Homo sapiens: one gene and its partners. The protein of the gene in region 1 purifies or fractionates together with the protein of each later gene. This does not show direct contact. Each region holds a gene or a part of one and is shown in the gene's direction. Other genes may lie near its edges.

Region 1 (3,500 bases):
GGCTGCAACCTCAGCCTCCCAAGTAGCTGGGATTACAAACATAAGCCACCACGCCCAGCCCTCATACCTCTTTTAAAAGTCGACCTGTTTTGCAGAAAGTCTGCTGTTTTTGTACTAAAGGCTTTGGAATTTGGCATTTAGCTAGGAATGCACATTCTTTCACCTCATTCATACTTTAAGAACCACAGAAGTGACTCTGCTTGGCCAGAAGGCACACTGTGTTGGTGGTTATATTAAAAGTCCTTGAGTATTTTGCTTTTCATGATCTTGCTCACTGCAACTTCCGCCTCCCAGGTTCAGGCGATTCTCCTGCCTCAGCCTCCCAAGTAGCTGCGACTACAGGCGTGTAGCACCACACCTGGCTAATTTTTGTATTTTTAGTAGAGATGAGGTTTCACCATATTGGCCAGGCTGTTCTCAACTCCTGACCTCGTGATCCGCCCACCTCAGCCTCCTAAAGTGCTGGGATTACAGCTGTGAGCCACCCTGCCCGGCCACTTTTGTATGATTTCTAATGTATTTGTAATTTACCTAACAAATTGCCTAATCTGCTATGTTAATGTATTTATGAATTAAAATAAATACGACTGCATGTTTGTGGTTCATTTTTGTGGAGGTGGCTGTGGTGACATCAGCCAAGAATCTGAATGGTACTGTTGAAGGAAACTAGCATGATAGCTTCAGTTCTAAAGGCCCTGAAACCTAGTCTCAGGTGGGTCCCCCTTGGGTTCACTTTATATTGGCAGTTTATTGGGAAAATGGATATTAGGTCCTGACCAATAGGACCGTAAGTCTGGGTTGAGTGCAAGATGAGTTAGACCGATTCTTTAGCTTCCTGCAGTGTAGTGGAGGAAAAATCGATGGTAGCAACGGGAGGTTGTATCCCTAGCTGATGAGTTGTATGAGCCTCTACTACCTGGCGCACCTCCGCCTGAAGATTGCCAGAATTGCTTGCCTCATGACGTGAGTCACAATGGAAACTTTGTCAAGCCCCCTGCACTGGCTGCCAACATAAATGTTCAGTACCCTGAAGGATGGGACTGAAGGGGGATCATCTAGAAGGTAAAGTTACCTACTGGCATAGGGGAGGTGGGACAGCCGTTAAGCCATTTGGAACTTGATGGAGACAGGTTTGAGGGAGGTGGGTGAGATTGGAGTTTGGTGGACTGTAGAGCTTGCTTGCCAAGGTGTTGAGGTCAGGGTTGGTTTGAGAATGGAAGCTAGTTACTAGCTATGATTGTGGGGGAACACAGCTTGATTTTTCTTACAAGCTAAGAGGAGTGAGGCAGTGTTTAAGAGGGCATGTTAAATGCAGCCAGGCTTGGTGGCTCACACCCGTAATCCCAGCACTTAGGCTAAGGCAGGCGGATCACAACATCTAGAGATCCTGGCCAACGCGGTGAAACCCTGTCTGTACTAAAAATACAAAATAACTGGGCATGGTGGTGTGCACCTGTGGGAGGCTGAGGCAGAATTGCTGGAACCCGGGAGATGGAGGTTGTACTGAGCTGAGACCTTGCCACTGCGCTCCAGCCTGGTGACAGAGTTAAGTCTCAAAAAAAAGGCATCTTCCTAAAGCAATTGTATTTGTGCTTACCTGTGCCAGGCACTGTTCTAGGTAAGCACTAAGTGGGCTTTAATACAGCATATTCCAATGGGGAATCCCAGGAACCAAAAGACTAATTGTCCAAGTCCACAACTAGAAGTGGCACCTCTGCAGAAACAAGCATCAAATTCCCTGCTCAGGAAGAAGCCAGATGAGTCAGCCCCATTCGTCTGTATGCCCAGTCCCATCCGTGTCCTGCTGTAACTACATAGATCTCACCTGAGTAAAGTGATTTTTTTCTGAACCAGTGGTTTTAGTATGTTTTCAATCCATATACTCAGGTGGGTTTGGGTAACTGCAGTGCTGGGCAGGAAATGAATGAATTTCTATTGACTTGCAAGGTAGAGGTGAAGCAAAGCTGTCAGTAGGTGTTCAGGTCCCACTCTGCTAAACTTCAGCTTGCAATACCCCTTTTTTAGACTTTCCAAACAGGCACTTCTGGCCTTGTTCTTTGTGTAGGCAGACAGTATTGGTTGCCTATCTTAGGAGTACTAGACTGGGTTTGAATCCTGATCCCACCACTTGCTGTTCATGAGACTTTGGGTGAGTTACTCAGCCCCTCTGCCTCAATTTCATGTTCACAAAATAAGTGATAAACTACCTCATAGAGTTGTAATAAGGACAAAGGAGTTGGTATTTGTGAAAAGATTCTTAGGGTCTCTAGATGGAGTGCAGCAGCATGATCACTTATTAAATAACATTCTTTTGTGACTTCTCAGAAACCAAGGATACAGTATCCAATTTTTTGTTTTTTGTTTTTTTTTTTTTTTGAGAGGGAGTCTCGCTCTGTCGCCCAGGCTGGAGTGCAGTGGCACAATCTCAGCTCACTGCAAGCTCAGCCTCCCCAGCAGCTGGGACTACAGGTGCACGCCGCCACACCCGGCTAATTTTTTTGTATTTTTAGTAGAGAAGGGGTTTCACCATGTTAGCCAGGAAGGTCTCCATCTCCTGACCTCGTGATCCGCCCACCTCGGCCTCCCAAAGTGCTGGGTTTACAGGCGTCAGCCACCATGCCCAGCTTTTTTTTTTTTGAGATCTAATCTCACTCTGTCTCCAGGAGGGAGTGCAATGGAGCCATCTTGGCTTGCTGCAACCTCCACCTCCCGGGTTCCAGCAATTCTCCCACCTCAGCCTCCCAAGTAGCTGGGATTACAGGCGCACGCCACCATGCCCGGCTAATTTTTTTTGCATTTTTTAGTAGAGACGGGTTTCACCATGTTAGCCAGGCTGGTCTCGAACTCCTGACCTCAAGTGATCCACCTGCCTCAGCATCCCAAAGTGTTGGGATTACAGGCGTAAGCCACTGCGCCTAGCCTCAAGCCTGATCCTTTTTTTTTTTTTTTTTTTTGAGATGGAGTCTTTGCCTCCCAGGCTGGAGTGCAGTGGCGTGATCTCAGCTCACTGCTACCTCTGCTTCCTGGGTTCAAGCGATTCTCCTGCCTCAACCTCCCAAGTAGCTGGGATTACAAGCGCCTGCACCGCACCCGGCTAATTTTTGTGTTTTTTTTTTCAGTAGAGACAGGGTTTCGCCATGTTGGCCAGGCTGGTCTCAAAACTCCTGACCTCAGGTGATCCACCACGCCCGGCAGAGCCTTGATCTCTTAACCACTATCCTCACCTCCCCTTTCCCTAAGGATCCACAATGGCCTCACTGGCTCTTGAAGGCAGGCTGGCACCTTGATCATTCTTCCTGGTCATTAGTATTCTGATCTGGTTATTTTCCATTTTATGTCCATCTAACCTACTTGGAGGATCCTCAAGAGACTGCATATGTAAACTCAGTACTTATTCTTGTACTGTGCCTGCCATATAGCAAGCACTGGCTGATTTAATTTTTCTGTGTTCTTTTTTATTGATTTGTTTTTATCTTTATTATTTTCTTTGCTTATTTTGG
Region 2 (2,150 bases), on another chromosome or scaffold:
CTTTGGCAGTGTAAGTCTCCTCTGCCCACCAGTTTCCATTCCCAGCAATCCCCTTTGGTAATCCACCAAACTTTGAGGCCCCTCCAGTCTCTGCCCTGGAAGTTTCAGGGGAGAGGTGAAGTTGGAGCAGTAAGAACAGTAATTAATTTCCCTTTTTAAGCTTTAAGCCTATTAACCATGTCCCATAATCGTCCCTGAGTGGGGAAACTGGGGGCAGGATCAGGCACTTAATCTCCACTTAGAGCTTAGCTCGGACTTTTCACACAGAGACCAAGTTCAGATGTTTTGATTAGTTCAAATTTTTATTTTTTTAGAGACACAGTCTCACCCTATCACCTGGAGGAATGCCGCCTATGGCTGGAGTGCAGTGGCACAATCGTAGCTCACTGCAGCCTTAACCTCTGGGCTCAAGCCATCCTCCTGCCTCAGTCCCCTGAGGAGGTGGGACTGCAGGTGCACACCACTATGCCCAGCTAATTTTTGTATTTTTTTTTTTAAGAGATGAGGTCTTGCTATGTTGCCCAGGCTGGGTCTCTAACTCTGGGGCTCAAGTGATCCTCCCACCTCAGCCTCCCAAAGTCTGGGATTATAGGCGTGAGCCACTGTACCCAGCCCCATATTCAGATTTTTATCACTGGTTGCTGATCTTGGATTTGCATTGGAGTTTTCTGGAGAATTTTTTTGAATGGCAATGTCCAGGTTCCACTCCCAGAGATTCTGAATTAACTTATCTGAGGGACAGCTCAGATCTTAGATGGGGCGTAGTAGTAACTCCATAATTTGTGTTATAAAGTGCTTTTGCGTCCTCTCGTTTGCTCCTTATCCCATCCTAGCAGTAGGTGTTGGTATCCCCATTTTTGAGGCCAGAAAACTGAGACTTAGAGATGTTTCATGACTTGTTTAGCTAGATGGTTAGTGGCAGAGCCCTGCTTGGAACTCAAGTCTTCCACCCCATGGTCCAGAATTCCCTCTTTCCCTGCCCCACAGTGTCCAGGAAGCGGGGCTACCACAGCCTTTGGTGGGAAGAACGTCACAGATTTTGGGGGGAAGGCAAGGGGAACCATAGACAAAGGTAGATAAGGCAACTAATGTTTCATGATCAGGAGGAAAGATGCAAGAGGAAGAGGGAAAAAAACTGATCCAAGGCAAGGCGCGGTGGCTCACGCCTGTGATCCCAGCATTTTGGGAAGCTGAGGCAGGTGGGTCACTTGAGGCCAGAAGTTCGAGACCAGCCTGGCCAACATGGCAAGACCCTATCTCTACAAAATATTTTAAAAATGAGGTGGGCGTGATAGCATGCACCTGTAGTCCCAGCTACTCAGGAAGCTGAGGCAGGAGGATCACTTGAGCCCAGGAGTTTGAGGCTGCAGTGAGCTGTGATCATGCCACTGCACTGCAGCCTGGACGACAGAGCAAGAGACCCTGTCTCTAACAAAATAACGAAACAAAAAAACTGAAAAAGCTGACCAATGACTAAGGCTTGGAGGTTGGGGGCAGAACCCAAGGTGGGAGGCACGGTCTTGAAAAGGAAGTGGCTCCAGTTGCCCCTCCATGCTCAACTTAGCCTCTCCCCGCCCTCCCAGGTGTGCGAGCTGGACATCATCTTCAACTTTGAGAAGGCCTACTTCATCCTGGATGAGTTTTTGATGGGGGGGGATGTCCAGGACACCTCCAAGAAGAGTGTGCTGAAAGCCATCGAGCAGGCTGACCTACTGCAAGAGGTACGGGCCAGGGACAGTGAGGAGGAGGAGGAAGCGCACAGTGGCGGACAGGGTCCTCCCTCCCCTGGACACCCGGCCTGCCCTGCCCACCGTCGCCAAGGAGCCCCCCCTCCCTGTGGTATCTGACCCCCACCACGCCCAGCTCTCCAGCTTACTCTCAAGCCCTGACCCCATGGGGTGGGAGGTAGGGTGGCAGATAGCCCACCTGTGCACCCCTCATTCCAAGCTCTGTCCTTCTCCCAAGCCCCCAGATGTCTCGTGGCCACCCAGTCTCCTTTGTCCAATTCTCTGAGCAAGGCTTAACACCAAAGGGTTAAGGGTTTGCTCTGGAGTTAAGGGTTGCTTGGAGAATTGGAGAAGGGGCACCTGGTAGGTCATTCTTTTCTTCCCTGATTTCTTCCCCCACCTCTCTTTTTTTTTTCTTTTTTT
Region 3 (3,254 bases), on another chromosome or scaffold:
GAAAATTCTTAATGATGTACTTCAAGCAAAAAGAAAATTTCCTAGGTAAAAGGTCTAAGATGCCAGAAAGAAAGACATGCAAAGGAAACTTACCACCATATTACAGATATGGACTGTCAGTCTGACTGGTCACACTAGGGGCATTTTGTTACCAAGGCCTTGAAAATAATAACCAACACTGCATACATGAGGGATGCTAGAAGAAAGGTCTGAGAGCCACTCTTCCTGGCACTGAAGGAAACAGGGCCCATCAGAGCAAACAAGTACCTTTTACCTCTCTCATGTCCTTGGAAGCAAATGTTTATAATCTCTGGTTTTGTGTAAAGTTTATAATAGTATTTTTCATTCAGGTTGCTACCTATTAGTGGATGGTGAAATTAATTTGGTGGATCACATTCAGAATATTTTTTTAAAATCAAAAGAATACAAGCTGGGCTCAGTGACTCACACCTGTAAGCCCAACAGTTTGAGAAGACCAGGCAGGAGGATTGCTTGAGAACAGGAGTTCAGAATCAGCCTGGGCAACATGGCGAGACCCTATGTCTACAAAAATTTTAAAATATGCCCGTTCTGGTGGCATGTGCCCATAGTCCTAGCTACTCGGGAGGCTAAGGCAGCAGGATTCTTTGTTATAAGGGGTTCGAGGCTGCAGTCAAACTTCTGGTCGAAATCCTGGTCACGCCACTGCATTTCAGCCTGGGCAACAGAGTAAAACCCCATCTTTAAAAAAAAATTAAGAAATAAAAATAATATGTGAAACATTAGAATATGTTGAATCTAGTAAGGCTAATGTTGAATCTACTAAGGATAAGCAATTATTTCTTGACACTCTACATATATACATGAGTGTTGGTAAATACCTGACTGTATCATCAGCTCTAGATATAAAATGTTTATGATGTTGGCTGTGAGTTAATGAGGAATAGTTTTCCTTTCTGTGGGTTTGGGTGTATTTGGGAAACATTAGCTTAGGGGGTAAAGTAGGTTACCCAACTCTGAAAAGCAGCATCAAAATCTTTATAATAAACACATACTAGGGGCCCAACTTAAATTTCAAGCAGATGTCATGAGCTGCTCAGAGTAGCGTGTTACAACTCTGCGTTATAAGGTAAAATGACTTAGAGTGTAGCAGTAGTCCCCAAACAATGTCAAATAGACAGTGGTAAGTATAGATTGCTCTTCTCCTTGCATCACAAATGTTAATTCACCCTGCCCCCACACGCATTAAAACTCAGCATATTTCACAAATTGAGTGTTTCATTTCTATTTGAGATAGACTTATGGTAAGTCAGCTTTGCTCCCCAAATAAGTTAGCCATATAGTACTTCTATATGCAAAATTTGAATCTCAATTTTACTACTCAAGCCGGAAGTAAAAGTCATTTTTCTATATCTTCTTTGCTCCCAGACTGGGTTACAGTTTACAGATCTGAATATTGTCACTTGTACACCATACATACACAGAGGTCTAAAACTCTCTACAAGTAAATAAAGAAAAAAAGCCCAGCAACCCAATAGGAAAATAGGCCAAGCCTGTTATAGGCTTTTTGATCATCTCCAGACTGGCAGGAAGAGAATGCATACTCACACTGTAAGTGCCTGATTTGATTTGCAGAGGATATAGAACCTTATCAGAAAACAGCCTTCCAAGGCAAGAGCAAATGCACCCTATCTAAGCACAGCTTTTCTCCAATTCTTATTTACCTAAGGAGATGAATAGTTGCCAGGAACATTGTTTGCACAAGGGCAGGAGCCTGCCAGATCTGAGAACACAGCAAAATTTTTATTTTGTCAAAAATCTTATATTCAGCTTACACCATTCATTGCAGGTGAACATACAACAGTGCATTTCAGTTTAGGGAAATGTTTATAGTCATCTGGTTCTCTTTATTCCTGGGAACAAGGTTACCTCACTTGGAACACATAACCAGTGCCAAGTTGTCCATCCCTAAGCAATATCGCTTCCTTCTACTTTCTAGAAGTTCTTCAGATTGTGGAAGAGAGACTTTTCAGAGTTCTTTGCCCTCATTGCCTCCTCCAGAAATTCATGCCTTTGTATAATCTCTTCCCCTTGAGAGCCAGTAGGCTAACCTAATGAGTTATTTTTAACCAGTAGAATACAGCAAAAATGATAGATTACAAGAGATTGTGGCTTCTATCTTGCTAGCGGACTCTCTCTGTCTTCTCTGCTTGCACACTTTGTTGAAGCAAGCTACCATCCCAGAGGCAAGGAACACAGGCCATCAGTTTAGCAGCCTTGAGGAACTAAATTCTTCCAACTACCACATAAGTTTGGAAGTAGATTCTTCTCCAGTCCAGCCTTCAGATGAGACCCCAGCCATGCCAACATCTTGATTGCAGCCCTGTGAGAGACCTTGAAATAGAACCATTTCTGATCTCCTGACCCACAGAAACTGTGAAATAAATATGTGTTAAGGTACTAAGTTTGTAGTAATTTGTTACGCAGCAGATTGTAAATAACACGCAGATAAAACCAGACAGAACAGAAAAATAAAATGGCTTTAACTCTAGAAAATTTCCCCATGTAAAAGTTTGAAAATGCTACTCTGCCTAAGGTCAAACTGTCATACATATATACGTATGAAAACACAGAATGGTGTCTGGAAGGGTAATACCAAATTAAATCTTTATCCAAGAGGAATGAAAACCAGTATTCACACAAAAACCTATGCACAAACCTTGTGAATATATTAAAAACCAGTGAATTATGCACTTTAAAAAGGTGAATTATGTGGTATATGAATTATATCTCCAAAACATTTAATTAAAAACCTGTACACAATTATTCGTAGAAACTTTCTTTAAAATTGCTAAAAACGAGGAAGATCTCAGTTATCCTTCAACTGGCAAATGAATAAACAAACTGGTACAGCCATGCAATTGAATACTGCTCAGCAATAAAAAAGAATGCACTGCCAGTACAGCAACATGGATAATTCTCAAATGCATTATGCCAGTTGACAGAGGTCAGACTCAAAATACTATGTACAGTGTGATTCTACTTATATGACACTGAAAAAAGCAGAACTATAAGGACAGAAAACAGGTTAGCGGTTGCCAAGGAGTGGGAGAAGCAGCCAGGGAGAACTTTGAGGAGGTGAAAATGTGCCAGGCCTTGGTTGGTGGTGGTACGTAACTGTGCATTTGTCAAGACTCAGTGCTATACGCTGAAAAGGGCAGGTTTTACTATAAGTAAGTTGTACCTCAATAAACATGATTTTTAAATGATTAAAA
Region 4 (3,500 bases), on another chromosome or scaffold:
CATTTATGTTTCAGGGTTCTTCTAATACAGAATTTAAGTCAACCAAAGAAGGATTTTCCATCCCTGTGTCTGCTGATGGATTTAAATTTGGCATTTCGGAACCAGGAAATCAAGAAAAGAAAAGGGAAAAGCCTCTTGAAAATGATACTGGCTTCCAGGCTCAGGATATTAGTGGCCGGAAGAAGGGCCGTGGTGTGATTTTTGGCCAAACAAGTAGCACTTTTACATTTGCAGATGTTGCAAAATCAACTTCAGGAGAAGGATTTCAGTTTGGCAAAAAAGACCTCAATTTCAAGGGATTTTCAGGTGCTGGAGAAAAATTATTCTCATCACGATACGGTAAAATGGCCAATAAAGCAAACACTTCCGGTGACTTTGAGAAAGATGATGATGCCTATAAGACTGAGGACAGCGATGACATCCATTTTGAACCAGTAGTTCAAATGCCTGAAAAAGTAGAACTTGTAACAGGAGAAGAAGGTGAAAAAGTTCTGTATTCACAGGGGGTAAAACTATTTAGATTTGATGCTGAGGTAAGGCAGTGGAAAGAAAGGGGCTTGGGGAACTTAAAAATTCTCAAAAACGAGGTCAATGGCAAACTAAGAATGCTGATGCGAAGAGAACAAGTACTAAAAGTGTGTGCTAATCATTGGATAACGACTACAATGAACCTGAAGCCCCTCTCTGGATCAGATAGAGCATGGATGTGGTCAGCCAGTGATTTCTCTGACGGTGATGCCAAACTAGAGCGGTTGGCAGCAAAATTTAAAACACCAGAGCTGGCTGAAGAATTCAAGCAGAAATTTGAGGAATGCCAGCGGCTTCTGTTAGACATACCACTTCAAACTCCCCATAAACTTGTAGATACTGGCAGAGCTGCCAAGTTAATACAGAGAGCTGAAGAAATGAAGAGTGGACTGAAAGATTTCAAAACATTTTTGACAAATGATCAAACAAAAGTCACTGAGGAAGAAAATAAGGGTTCAGGTACAGGTGCGGCCGGTGCCTCAGACACAACAATAAAACCCAATGCTGAAAACACTGGGCCCACATTAGAATGGGATAACTATGACTTAAGGGAAGATGCTTTGGATGATAGTGTCAGTAGTAGCTCAGTACATGCTTCTCCATTGGCAAGTAGCCCTGTGAGAAAAAATCTTTTCCGCTTTGATGAGTCAACAACAGGATCTAACTTCAGTTTTAAATCTGCTTTGAGTCTATCTAAGTCTCCTGCCAAGTTGAATCAGAGTGGGACTTCAGTTGGCACTGATGAAGAATCTGTTGTTACTCAAGAAGAAGAGAGAGATGGACAGTACTTTGAACCTGTTGTTCCTTTACCTGATCTAGTTGAAGTATCCAGTGGTGAGGAAAATGAACAAGTTGTTTTTAGTCACAGGGCAGAAATCTACAGATATGATAAAGATGTTGGTCAATGGAAAGAAAGGGGCATTGGTGATATAAAGATTTTACAGAATTATGATAATAAGCAAGTTCGTATAGTGATGAGAAGGGACCAAGTATTAAAACTTTGTGCCAATCACAGAATAACTCCAGACATGAGTTTGCAAAATATGAAAGGGACAGAAAGAGTATGGGTGTGGACTGCATGTGATTTTGCAGATGGAGAAAGAAAAGTAGAGCATTTAGCTGTTCGTTTTAAACTACAGGATGTTGCAGACTCGTTTAAGAAAATTTTTGATGAAGCAAAAACAGCCCAGGAAAAAGATTCTTTGATAACACCTCATGTTTCTCGGTCAAGCACTCCCAGAGAGTCACCATGTGGCAAAATTGCTGTAGCTATATTAGAAGAAACCACAAGAGAGAGGACAGATGTTATTCAGGGTGATGATGTAGCAGATGCAGCTTCAGAAGTTGAAGTGTCTAGCACATCTGAAACAACAACAAAAGCAGTGGTTTCTCCTCCAAAGTTTGTATTTGTTTCAGAGTCTGTTAAAAGAATTTTTAGTAGTGAAAAATCAAAACCATTTGTATTTGGCAACAGTTCTGCCACTGGGTCTTTGTTTGGATTTAGTTTTAATGCACCTTTGAAAAGTAACAATAGTGAAACTAGTTCAGTAGCCCAGAGTGGATCTGAAAGCAAAGTGGAACCTAAAAAATGTGAACTGTCAAAGAACTCTGATATCGAACAGTCTTCAGATAGCAAAGTCAAAAATCTCTCTGCTTCCTTTCCAACGGAAGAATCTTCAATCAACTACACATTTAAAACACCAGAAAAGGGTAGGTACTTTGTTGTTAAAGTTAAGCACAATTTTTCTTTCTTTTAATGTTTAGCTTGATGCAGACTCTTTGTGGGATACTAATGTTGGGATATAAACGATGCTTTGTGAACACCCCCAAAATATTTGAGCAATTTTTTTTCTCCCTTAATAAGTTCACGGTGAGGTTTCAAAGAGCAAGAGAACTTAGTTAAAGACATTTCAGTAACTGGAAGATACTTCTATCATGCTAGGGCAGAGCAAAAGAACTTGGTACAGTGTACGGACTCATGCTTGAATCATGCGCATTAACGTGAGTCTTTTTTTAAAGTGTTCATTTTCATTTGTTCTGTTTCTTTTGTCACTCAGAAAACATGATATTGAGGCTGGGCACGGTGGCTCACTCCTAGAATGCCAGCACTTTGGGAGGTTGAGGTGGGCAGATCACTTGAGCTCAGGAGTTCGAGACCAGCCTGGCCAACATGGTGAAACCCTGTTTCTACTGAAAATACAAAAATGAGCCGGGCATGGTGGTGCGTGCCTATAATTAGCAGCTACTCAGGAGGTTGAGGCAGGAGGATCGCTTGAGCACAGGAGATGGAGGTAGCAGTGAGCTGAAATCATGCCACTGCACTCCAGCCTGACTGAGTGACTGAGTGAGACTTTGTCTCCAAAAAAAACAAAAAACAAAAAACAAAAAAAAACATGATATTGAGATGTTCTCATTTTATGTGTTGTATGTCAGTCTTGCTCATGTATTAAATGAGCAAAGAATGAAACTACAGGGATAAATGAATATGTAAGACAGTCAGATTGGTGGTATAAATTGAGGGATTCTGGCTTTTTATGTTTTAAAAGCATATTCATTTTGTTTCCTAAAATGTTAAAAAATGAAATATTCTTTATTTTCTAGGATTTAATTTTAGCCTTTTTAAATCTAATCCCATGGCCTTTTGGACTAGCACCCCTTCCTCACAGCCTGAGAGCAAAGGTATAGAACTAGCATTCTCAGTATGAGATAACAGCAGTTTTTAGCAGCTGGGTAGCCCTTAGCAAAGTATTAATTACTGTGGCTGTATGAAATGAAGTACTTACCACTACAACATGCATGTTAAAGAATGCCAGTTTAAGCAAAGTACCTTTTGACTGGTGGCATGACACCCTTGTTGGTTTGTTTTTTAAAATGTAGTGGGATGCTGATTTGTAATGTACTTCATTGCTCTGCTATTTCAGGTCTGCTCAATGAAGACCTATGTTTTATCTAATGTTTATCTTTAGCCACTA
Region 5 (3,500 bases), on another chromosome or scaffold:
AAGCCTTTACCTGTGGAGTATTATAACACTTTATTATCTATATTGCTTCATAGAAATCCTAAAGTTCTTACGGAGCTTGGGTAGGATAAGTGTTGACAAGATAAATTGATAAGAAATGTAAAAATAGAATAATTAAAGAATCCATGAAATGAGAGTACTTTGTCAATGGAAACATTAGTAAGAAAAGAGCAAAGAATTCATCCTTGCAGTTTGCCCAGAAGGATTGGGACCATTAGGATGGAAAGAACCAACTAAAGAAGAAAGGAATAATCTCAGAAAAAGATGAAAATAGAGCATCTTAGAAGGCAAAGGATGCTACAGAAAAGAGAAAGCAAACTGAGAAATGACTTGTGTTTAGTCAGGAGTCACCCTACTCCTATTTGTTGTGTTCATATAGCAGGCGTTAGGAGCTAGATGGCATTGAAATAATGCTAGGATAAATAGGGAATGGCAGAAAGAACCAAACATTTTTTATCTGAGAAAGGGTGGTTCCTTTCTCATCTTGTCCTCTCAAATGCTCCATTTCTTAACCAAAAATCTTTCAAATTAAAGTCTAACTATCTCAGTATGCTATTAAAATATCCTTTATTTCCCGTTTGCAAAGGCTTAGAGGTAGGAGTGTGCCTGATATGTTTTAGTGAATGCAAGTAGGTAACTGGGTAGAAAAGAATGAGCAAGGGAGATAGATTACATAGAATCCTAAGGACCATCATTATAAGGACATTGGCTTTTACTCTGAAATGAGAGGCCATTAATGGGTGTTTATGTAATCTGATTCATGTTTTAAAAGGATCGCTTTGGAGTCAGGCCTGTAGCCCTAGCTACTCCAGAGGCTGAGGCAGGAAATCTTGAGCTCAGGAGTTTGAAGCTTCAGTGTGCTACAATGGTGCCTGTGAAAAGTCACTGCACTCTGGCCTCGGCCACACATGGAGATCCTGTCTCCTAAAAAAAAAAAAAAGAAAAGGATCAGGTCGGGCACAGTGGCTCATGCCTGTAATCCCAGCACTTTGGGAGGCCAAGGCGGGTGGATGGCGAGGTCAAGAGTTCGAAACCAGCCTGACCAACATGGTGAAACCCCATCTCTACTAAAAATAAAAAAATTAGCTGGGTGTGGTGACACACACCTGTAATCCCACCTACTCAGGAGGCCGAGGCAGGAGAATCGCTTGAACCCAGGAGGTGGACGTTGCAGTTAGCTGAGATCACGCTATTGTACTCCAGCCTGGGCAACAGAGCGAGACTCCATCTCAAAAAAAAAAAAAAAAAAGGATCACTTTGGCTGCTGTGTTGAGAATAGATTATAGGGTGGTATGTATGACATCAGGGAGAGCAGTAAGTAGACTACTGCAATAACTTAGTTGATACTAAAGTATTAAAAGACAAGGGGCCAGATGCGGTGGCTCATACCTATAATCCCAGTACCCCAGGCTAAGGTGAGTGGATCACGAGGTCAAGAGATCAAGACCATTCTGGCCAACATGGTGAAACCCCATCTCTACTAAAAATACAAAAATCAGCTGGGTGTGGCGCGTGCCTGTAGTCCCAGCTACTTGGGCGGCTGAGGCAGGAGAATCACCTGAACCCAGGAGGTGGAGGTTGCAGTGAGCCAATCACACCACTGCACTCCAGCCTGGGCAACAAAGTGAGACTCCGTCTCAAAAAAAAGACAAGGGAAAACTAGTAAAGAACCAAGGAACAATGCAAAGTAATGTAAGAGGATAACCAGAAGAACGTGCTATCCTAGAAACCGAGTAGAAAAGTGCATATCGAGGAGAGACTGATTAACTATGTTAGTCAGTACTGCTTGTTAGATCAAGTATAATAGAGGTGAGAATTTGGACTTCACCACTGTGGAGGTCACTGGTGATCTTGAATAGTTTTGGTGGAGTGAGGTTCAGGGAGTGAAAGATTGGAATGGATGAGTATAATCAAACCCTTAGATATAATTTGTAGTCTGTAGAAAACATGGAGCCTGGAGGAATGAGTAAATAAACAAATACAGCTTGCAAAGACATTCAATAGGAAAACTGACTACCTTTTGTCAGTAAGACAATGGCATGAAAAGAAGAGTGGGGAGGAGGATCTGTTTTAGATGAAGAGATTTAAAAAGACATTCAAATAAAACGTGTTGCTCTTACTTGGTTCTTGATTTAAGTAAACAGATGGTTTAAAAGACCTCTTTGAAACAAATAGAGACGTTTAAATCTGGACCCTGTAATAGATAACAAGGAATTACTGCTGATTTTGTTAAGTGTGATGATGATATCGTGGCTATGAAAGGAAATGTCTTTATTTTATTTTATTTTTATTTTTTGAGACGGAGTTTTGCTCTTCTTGCCCAGGCTGGAGTGCAATGGCACGATCTCGGCTCACCGCAACCTCTGCCTCCCGGGTTCAAGTGATTCTCCTGCCTCAGCCTTCCTGAGTAGCTGGGATTACAGGCATGCACCACCACGCCTGGCTAATTTTGTATTTTTAGTAGAGACAGGGTTTCTCCATGTTGGTCAGGCTGGTCTCAAACTCCCAACCTCAGATGAACCGCCCACCTCAGTCTCCCAAAGTGCTAGGAGTACAGGCGTGAGCTATCGCACCCTTCCAGAAATGTCTTTATTTTTTAGAAGTATATACTAAAGTATTTAGAGATGAAATCTTCTAAGCATAATTTGTTTTAAACAACTGCAGCAAAATGTTCATAATTATTGAATCTTGGTAATAGGTATATGGGGTTCATTATAATTGTGTGTATATTAGAAGTTTTTCATAATTTTGAAAAGAGAGGGAATGTAAAGAGTGTTGGAAATAGGCTGGGCTTGGTGGCTCACACCTGTAATTCCAGCACTTTGGGATGCCAAGGTGGGTGGATCACCTGAGGTCAGGAGTTCAAGACCAGCCTGTCCAACATGGTGAAACCCCATCTCTACTCAAAATACAAAAATTAGCCAGGCGCAGTGGCGCATGCCTGTAATCCTAGCTACTAGGGAGGCTGAGGCAGAATTGCTTGAACTCAGGAGGTGGAGGTTGCAGTGAGCCAAGATTGCGCCACTGCACTCCAACCTGGGCGACAGAGTGAGACTCTGTCTCAAAAAAGGCCAGGCGTGGTGGCTCACACCTGTACTCCCAGCACTTTGGGAGGCCGAGGTGGGTGAATCATGAGGTCAGGAGTTCGAGACCACCCTGGCCAAAATGGTGAAACTCCGTCTCTACTAAAAATGCAAAAAATTAGCTGGGCATGGTGGTGGGCGCCTGTAATCCCAGCTACTCGGGAGGCTGAGGCAGTAGAATCGCTTGAACCCGGGAGGCCGAGGATGCATTGAGCCGAGATCACGCCGCTGCATTCCAGCCAAGGCGACAGTGCGAGACTCTGCCTCAAATAAATAAATAAATAAAAGTGTTGATAGTAGAGATACAGGTAACTCTCTTGAAGAATTTTGCCTTAAATGGGACTAGAAAAATAAGTGCTAGATGAGGATGTAGGTTGGGAGAAATTACCGCATGCTTGT
Region 6 (3,500 bases), on another chromosome or scaffold:
AGAAAATTCTATGGGGTCCCTATATAAGGCCCTGAATCCCATTCATGACCTATTTACCTCCCAAAGGCCCTACTTCCTTACACCAGTCATATTGACAGTTAGGATTTCAATATGAATTTGGGATCGCAGGAGATACAAACATTCAAGCTATAACTTTTTTCTTTTTTTGAGACACAGTCTCACTGTCGCCAGGCTGGAGTGCTGTGGTGCAATCTCGGCTCGCTGCAACCTCCGACTCCCTGGTTCAAGGGATTCTCCTGCCTCAGCTTCCTGAGTAGCTGGGATTTTGGGCACACGCTGCCACGCCTAGCTAATTTTTGTATTTTAGTAGACACGGAGTTTCACTATGTTGGCCAGGATGGTCTCGCTCTCTTGACCTCATGATCCACCTGCCTCGGCCTCCCAAAGTGCTGGGATTACAGTCGTGAGCCACTGCACCCAGCTTCTTTTTTTTCTTTGTTTGTTTCTTTTGTTTTTTTGAGATGGAGTCCCACCCTGTTGCCCAGGCTGGAGTGCAATGGCGCAATCTTGGCTCACTGCAAGCTCCACCTCCCGGGTTCAAGTGATTCTCCTACCTCAGCCTCCCGAGTAGCTGGGATTACAGGCACGTGCCACCACACCTAGCTAATTTTTTTTTTTTCCCTCTCTGAGATGGAGTCTTGCTCTGTCACCAGGCTGGAGTGCAGTGGCACGATGTTGGCTCACTGCAACCTCTGCTTCCCGGATTTAAGCAATTCCCCTGCCTCAGCCTACTCGGCATGGGACTACAGGCATGCACCACCACGCCCAGCTAATTTTTTTTTTTTTTTTTTTTTAAACCAAGTTTCGCTCTTGTTGCCCAAGCTGGAGTGCAATGGCGCAATCTCAGCTCACCACAACCTCCGCCTTCCGGGTTCAAGCAATTCTCCTGCCTCAGCCTCCCGAGTAGCTGGGATTACAGGCATGTGCCACCACCCTGGCTAATTTTGTATTTTTAGTAGAGATGGGGTTTCTCCGTGTTGGTCAGGCTGGTCTTGAACTCCTGACCTCAGGTGATCCACCCGACTCGGCCTCTCAAAGTGCTGAGATTACAGGTGTGAGCCACCACACCTCTAGATAATTTTTTGTATTTTTGTGGAGACAGGGTTTCACCATGTTGGTCAGGATGGTCTTGATCTCCTGACCTCGTGATCCGCCCACCTCGGCCTCCCAAAGTGCTGGGATTACAGGTGTGGGCCACCATGCCCAGCCTATAACGTGTATTTTTAAGATTGAGAAGTAACACTTTGATAAACACTTTACCAGGTCTTTGTTTCTAATTAAGCTCTTGGGTTTTTTCGGTGTGTTTTTAGTTATTACCCCATTCAAGTTGACAACTGAGGCAACGCAGACTCCAGTCTCCAATAAGAAACCAGTGTTTGATCTTAAAGCAAGTTTGTCTCGTCCCCTCAACTATGAACCACACAAAGGTATGTGGGAGTGTTTTGAGCTACAGGGCCTGTAAAATACTTAAGATTGGTGGGACGCAGTGGCTCACACCTACTAAACATACAAAAATTAGCCAGGCGTGGTGGCAGGCACCTGTAATCCCAGATACTTAGGATGCTGAGACAGGAGAATCACTTGAACCTGTTAGGTGGAGGTTGCAGTGAGCCGAGACCGTGCCACTGCACTCCAGCCTGGGCAACAAGAGTGAAACTCCATCTAAAAAATAAAAATAAAAAATAAAAACTTAAGAATAAACAAATTCTGCGGCCGGGCGCAGTGGCTCTGGCCTGTAATCCCAGCACTTTTGGGAGGCTGAGGTGGGCAGATCACTTGAGGTCAGGAGTTCGAGATCAGCCTGGCCAACATGGTGAAACCCCGTCTCTTCTGAAAAAAAATAAGAAAATTAGCCTGGCGTGGTGGCGGCGCCTGTAATCCCAGCTACTTGGGAGGCTGAGGCAGGACAATCGCTTGAACCTAGGAGGCAGAGGTTGCAGTGAGCCGAGATTGCACCACTACACTCCAGCCTGGGTGACATAGTGAGACCACGCCTCAAAAACAGGCTGGGCGCGGTGGCTCACGCCTGTAATCCCAGCACTTTGGGAGGCCAAGGCAGGCGGATCATGAGTTCAGGAGATCGAGACCATCCTGGCTAACACATTGAAACCCCGTCTCTACCAAAAATACAAAAACAAAATTAGCTGGGCATGGTGGCGGGCGCCTGTAGTCTCAACTACTCGGGAGGCTGAGGTGGGAGAATGGTGTGAACCCAGGAGGTGAAGCTTGCAGTGAGCCGAGACCACACCACTGCACTCCAGCCTGGGCGACAGAACGAGACTCTGTCTAAAAAATTTAAAAAATAATAATAATTAAATTTAAATTAAAAAAAAAAGCAACACATAAACTTCAAGAAATTTGGTCCCAGTTCTTTTTGTAAAATTGCAAATTGGTTGGACACAGTGGCTCATGCCTGTAATCCCAGCACTTTGGGAGGCCAAGGCAGGCAGATTGCTTGAGAACAGGAGCTCAAGACCAGCATGGGCAACATGATGAAACCCCGTCTCTACTAAAAAATACAAAAATTACCCGGGCATGGTGGCATGTGCATGTAGTCCCAGCTACTCATGAGTCTAAATTGGGAGGATCACTTGAGCCCAGGAGGCGGAGGTTGCTGTGAGCTGAGATCAGATCACACCACTGCACTCCAAACTGAGCGACAGAGTGAGATTCTGTCTCAAAGAAAAAAAAAGTATAAATGTTGATAGCAGGTAACCCCACAGATGAAGAGAATGAAGTTGGGAATATAAATCAAACAATCTTTTTAAAATTCTTTGTCTCTGTCCTAAACTAGGAAAGCTAAAACCATGGGGGCAATCTAAAGAAAATAATTATCTAAATCAACATGTCAACAGAATTAACTTCTACAAGAAAACTTACAAACAACCCCATCTCCAGACAAAGTAAGTACATAATTATCCAGCTTTATAATTATTTTAATTTCAAAAGCAGCACCTCTGAGGGATAGGGGCTCAGTAATAGTGGTGTTTTAAGAGGAGGTTAGAAGTGGTATTATGGCCGTGTGCGGTGGCTCACGCCTGTAATCCCAGCACTTTGGGAGGCCGAGGTGGGCGGAACACGAGGTCAGGAGATCGAAACCATCCTGGCTAACACGGTGAAACCCCGTCTCTACTAAAAATACAAAAAATTAGCTGGGCATGGTGGCGGGCGCCTGTAGTTCCAGCTACTCGGGAGGCTGAGGCAGGAGAATGGCGTGAACCCAGGAGGCAGAGCTTGCAGTGAGCCGAGATCGCGCCACTGCACTCTAGCCTGCGTGACAGAGCCAGGCGCCGTCTCAAAAAAAAAAAAAGTGGTATCATGGGCCAGGCACGGTGGCTCACGCCTGTAATCCCAGCACTTTGGGAGGCCGAGGGGGGCAGATCACGAGGTCAGATCGAGACCATCCTGGCTAACGCATTGAAACCCCATCTCTACTAAAAATACAAAAAATTAGCCGGGCGTGGTGGCGGGCGCCTGTA
Region 7 (3,500 bases), on another chromosome or scaffold:
ATTCAGGTACCGGTTCCACCTTGCTCCCTGATTTGGGCAAGCTATTTCACCTTTCTGAGCCTCTGTGTCCTCTACATAAGGGGATGATACCCCCTACCTCATAGTTAGGAAGGAAAAGTAGTATCTCTTGTGTAGAGTGTGGCTTGCCATACAGCAGGTATTAGCACACATTGGTCCAGGATGCCTTTAAGTATGGAAAACTGAGAGAGATGGAGACTCTCCCTATGGGAGAGAGAGAGAGTGTGTGTGTGTGTGTTTGTTTGAAAAGAAAGGAATATGAGAGTTGGAAGTTCCTAAAGGATGTCAGCCAGGTTTGCTCTTTTTACCAAAAAGGCTTTGAGTACAAAACCATGCATCATTCCACCTTTATGTAAAACTGTATGCGCCTCATCAGGAATACTCTATGGACTTCAGATCATGCTTTCAAAGGGATCTCTTAGAATTGGCCAAGATCCAGAAAAGGGAACTGAGTCAGACAAAAGAGCAGGACTCTTCAATGTGGAAAAGCAAAGACTGAAGGAATCACGGGATCAGGAGGTAGGAAACAGCGAATGGCCTAGAGGAGTTTGGCGATGGGCACTGCAAGTGGATTGTGGTATGACTGTGTTAGGACCAGGGTGAGGAGCACTGCATAAAAGGGGCGTTTAAGAGGTGGTGTAAACAGGTATTGCAAGGGGATTTTTTAGGGATGAGAACTAACTTGTGAAGACAAAGCCATAAGTGGCTCCTGTAGAAGCTGGACTGCACCTCGCCTTTAACACTTGACATCAGGGAGGGGGCATGTGGTCCAGGCACATCCTGGGTGGGGGCACCATTGGTTACTGGACCCTGGCCCAGGTGGATAGGGTCTGACCCAGTGGAGTGTCCTCCGTTCCTGAGAAATACAGGATTTGGTCAAAGATGTTCAGTTTCAAAATTGACACACTACTTAGGCAAAAAAAAGTGTAGTTATACTTTTTTAATATTTGCAAGGTCTTTTATTAAAGAGCAGAAAGAACGGCTCCTTATGACAAGATAATCAGTGATTACAATCTTTTAGAAACCTGATTTTTCTCTCTCCACATCTCTGCCAAAATATCTAACAAATTGTGTTGACATCCCACTGTTAGGAGAGGGCCAGACCTTCCTAATCAGGTGTCCTGGTGAGAGGAGGACTTCTTTATACGGATTCGGCTCCCTGAGCGAGATGGCCAAGACAAAACTGCCCACGTAATTTTTGTATTTTCATGGAAATACGAAGGGGATATAATTTCAGCAAAACCCTGCCAGCTTCACTTGGTGACTACAACCAAAGATTATGTGTCAAGTGCACGAGGGTCCCTCTCTGACAGGTCTGATTAGTGGTGACCCCCCCATCAGAGTAGAGACAGAGCTCACGGTTTAAAAGTTTCATCGGGGCCAGGCGTGATGGCTCACACCCGTAATCCCAACACTTCAAGAGGCAGAGGCAGAAGCATCACTCAAGCCTAAGAGTTCAAGGCCAGCCTGGGTAACATGGCAAGACCCATCTCTACAAAAAATTTAAAAATAAAAAATTTAAAGCTACCATGCCGGCTTGTTCTCACCTTTATACTCTATGCTTGTGTGTGTGTTTGTGTGTGTGTGTGTGCTTTTTCTCTGTCTGTCTCCCTCCCCCTGCCATCTTCTCCCCGCCCTTTCTCCTTTTCTCTTTCTCTTAGCTTCACGGCTTCAGCCCAGGTCACCTGTCTATCCGAAGGCTGAAACACAGGTGAGAGGGTTCATGCGTAGTAGCATGTACCTGTAGTCTCAGCTACTTGGGAGACTGAAGCAGAAGGATCGCTTGAGCCTGGGAGGTCAAGGCTACAGTGAACTGTGATTGAGGCACTGTATTCCAGCCTGGGTGACAGAGCAGGACCCTGTCTTTTAAAAAAGAAGAGTTTTGGCCAGGCACGGTGGCTCACATCTGTAATCCCAGAACTTTCAAAGGGCAAGTCAGGCGGATCACGAGGTCAGGAGATCAAGACCATGCTGGCTAACATGGTGAAACCCCGTCTCTCCTAAAAATACAAAAAAATTAGCTGGGCGTGGTGGCGGGCACCTGTAGTCCCAGCTACTCGGGTGGCTGAGGCAGGAGAATGGCGTGAACCCCAGAGGCAGAGCTTGCCGTAAGTCGAGATCGCGCCACTGCACTCCAGCCTGGGCAACAGAGTGAGACTCTGTCTCAAAAAAAAAAAAAGAAAAGTTTCATCAGTGGCTGTGGATGATGATGGAATGGAGGGAGTGTTCATTTAAATTACAGGTGCTTAGAAGCCACCAGAAACCAACCGGTTCAACAGATTGTGGACAAACAGTGGAGAAGCTGCAAGTGCCTACCTGCGAGTTTCCATAGCAGTCTTCCCCTCCAGTCCTCACAGCAGCCCTTTCAGGAAGTGCACAGGGTCATCTTTCTGGTTCTTATTTTTTCACAGATGAGGAAACTGAGAGACCAGTGGTCCTTTTCCACCAAGCCACATCTAAGGTGGACCGGTCTCGCTGGATGTGAGGTGTCTGAGTCAGTACTGAAAGTAGCTGCTCTAGAAGAATATGTGGTTAATAATTAGAAGCATAGCAGCTTGGAAGCATCCCTTTTTCGTTTCACCTGGCACCTGATTTGTGTGTGTTTTTTTCTGGTGCCTTTATTTCTGAAGAACTTGGCCTGTAACACCTCAGTAATCTTCAGCCCCTTTGGATGGATTTTTTTTAAAAAGGCACCCATAGAAATTGTTTACTAAGTATTCACCAAATCCAAATGGAGAAGCAAACCCACACCTTCTGGCCCCATCTTTGTTCTCACCTGTATTTTTATTCTTATCTTTATTTATTTATTTATTTATTTATTTATTTATTTATTTATTTTTTGAGATGGAGTCTCGCTCTGTCGCCAGGCTGGAATGCAGTGGCACGATCTTGGCTCACTGCAACCTCCGCCTCCTGGGTTCAAGCGATTATCCTGCCTCAGCCTCCGGAGTAGCTGGGATTACAGGCGCATGCCACCGCACCTAGCTAATTTTGTATTTTTAGTAGAGACAGGGTTTCACCGTGTTGGCCAGGGTGGTCTCAATCTCTTGACCTCGGCCTCCCAAAGTGCTAGGATTATAGGCGTGAGCTACCGTGCCGGCTTGTTCTCACCTTTATACTCTATGCTTGTGTGTGTGTGCTTTTTCTCTGTCTGTCTCCCTCCCCCTGCCATCTTCTCCCCGTCCTTTCTCCTTTTCTCTTTCTCTTAGCTTCACGGCTTCACCCCGGGTCACCTGTCTATGTGAAGGCTGAAACACATGTGACAGCGTTCAAGATTAGTCATAGGCTGACATCTTTAATATACAGTATCTACATGTATGATTTTCTTTTTTTTTTTTTAAAGACCAAGTCTTGCTCTGTCGCCCATGCTGGAGTGCAGTAGCACGATCTGCACTCACTACAACCTCCACCTCCCGGGTTCAAGCAGTTCCTGCCGCAGCCTCCTAAGTAGCTGGGATTACAGACGTGTGCTACCACAACTG

Evidence for each region.
Region 2: the proteins of RCC1 (region 1) and AP1S1 fractionate together in Homo sapiens (co-fractionation; one large-scale study listed by BioGRID). This does not show direct contact.
Region 3: the proteins of RCC1 (region 1) and RGPD3 purify together in Homo sapiens (affinity purification with mass spectrometry; 3 studies listed by BioGRID and IntAct, with this or other methods). This does not show direct contact.
Region 4: the proteins of RCC1 (region 1) and RGPD5 purify together in Homo sapiens (affinity purification with mass spectrometry, with the first as the bait; 3 studies listed by BioGRID). This does not show direct contact.
Region 5: the proteins of RCC1 (region 1) and DLGAP5 purify together in Homo sapiens (affinity purification with mass spectrometry; 2 studies listed by BioGRID and IntAct, with this or other methods). This does not show direct contact.
Region 6: the proteins of RCC1 (region 1) and NUSAP1 purify together in Homo sapiens (affinity purification with mass spectrometry; 3 studies listed by BioGRID and IntAct, with this or other methods). This does not show direct contact.
Region 7: the proteins of RCC1 (region 1) and GLYR1 fractionate together in Homo sapiens (co-fractionation; one large-scale study listed by BioGRID). This does not show direct contact.

What each region holds. Positions count from the first base shown.
Region 1 is NC_000001.11:28,509,043-28,512,542, forward strand, and holds part of RCC1 (regulator of chromosome condensation), read left to right. Parts: exon of another isoform or gene 1-1,850; intron 1,851-3,500. UniProt on the Homo sapiens protein: Guanine-nucleotide releasing factor that promotes the exchange of Ran-bound GDP by GTP, and thereby plays an important role in RAN-mediated functions in nuclear import and mitosis.
Region 2 is NC_000007.14:101,157,476-101,159,625, forward strand, and holds part of AP1S1 (AP-1 complex subunit sigma-1A), read left to right. Parts: coding exon 1-10; intron 11-1,583; coding exon 1,584-1,721; intron 1,722-1,997; exon of another isoform or gene 1,998-2,080; intron 2,081-2,150. UniProt on the Homo sapiens protein: Subunit of clathrin-associated adaptor protein complex 1 that plays a role in protein sorting in the late-Golgi/trans-Golgi network (TGN) and/or endosomes.
Region 3 is NC_000002.12:106,406,160-106,409,413, reverse strand, and holds part of RGPD3 (ranBP2-like and GRIP domain-containing protein 3), read left to right. Parts: intron 1-3,254.
Region 4 is NC_000002.12:109,835,805-109,839,304, forward strand, and holds part of RGPD5 (RANBP2-like and GRIP domain-containing protein 5/6), read left to right. Parts: intron 1-14; coding exon 15-2,238; intron 2,239-3,129; coding exon of another isoform or gene 3,130-3,233; exon of another isoform or gene 3,234-3,500.
Region 5 is NC_000014.9:55,185,086-55,188,585, reverse strand, and holds part of DLGAP5 (disks large-associated protein 5), read left to right. Parts: intron 1-3,500. UniProt on the Homo sapiens protein: Potential cell cycle regulator that may play a role in carcinogenesis of cancer cells. Mitotic phosphoprotein regulated by the ubiquitin-proteasome pathway.
Region 6 is NC_000015.10:41,374,381-41,377,880, forward strand, and holds part of NUSAP1 (nucleolar and spindle-associated protein 1), read left to right. Parts: intron 1-1,331; coding exon 1,332-1,448; intron 1,449-2,815; coding exon 2,816-2,924; intron 2,925-3,500. UniProt on the Homo sapiens protein: Microtubule-associated protein with the capacity to bundle and stabilize microtubules. May associate with chromosomes and promote the organization of mitotic spindle microtubules around them.
Region 7 is NC_000016.10:4,837,289-4,840,788, reverse strand, and holds part of GLYR1 (cytokine-like nuclear factor N-PAC), read left to right. Parts: exon of another isoform or gene 1-537; intron 538-1,109; exon of another isoform or gene 1,110-1,546; intron 1,547-3,500. UniProt on the Homo sapiens protein: Cytokine-like nuclear factor with chromatin gene reader activity involved in chromatin modification and regulation of gene expression. Acts as a nucleosome-destabilizing factor that is recruited to genes during transcriptional activation.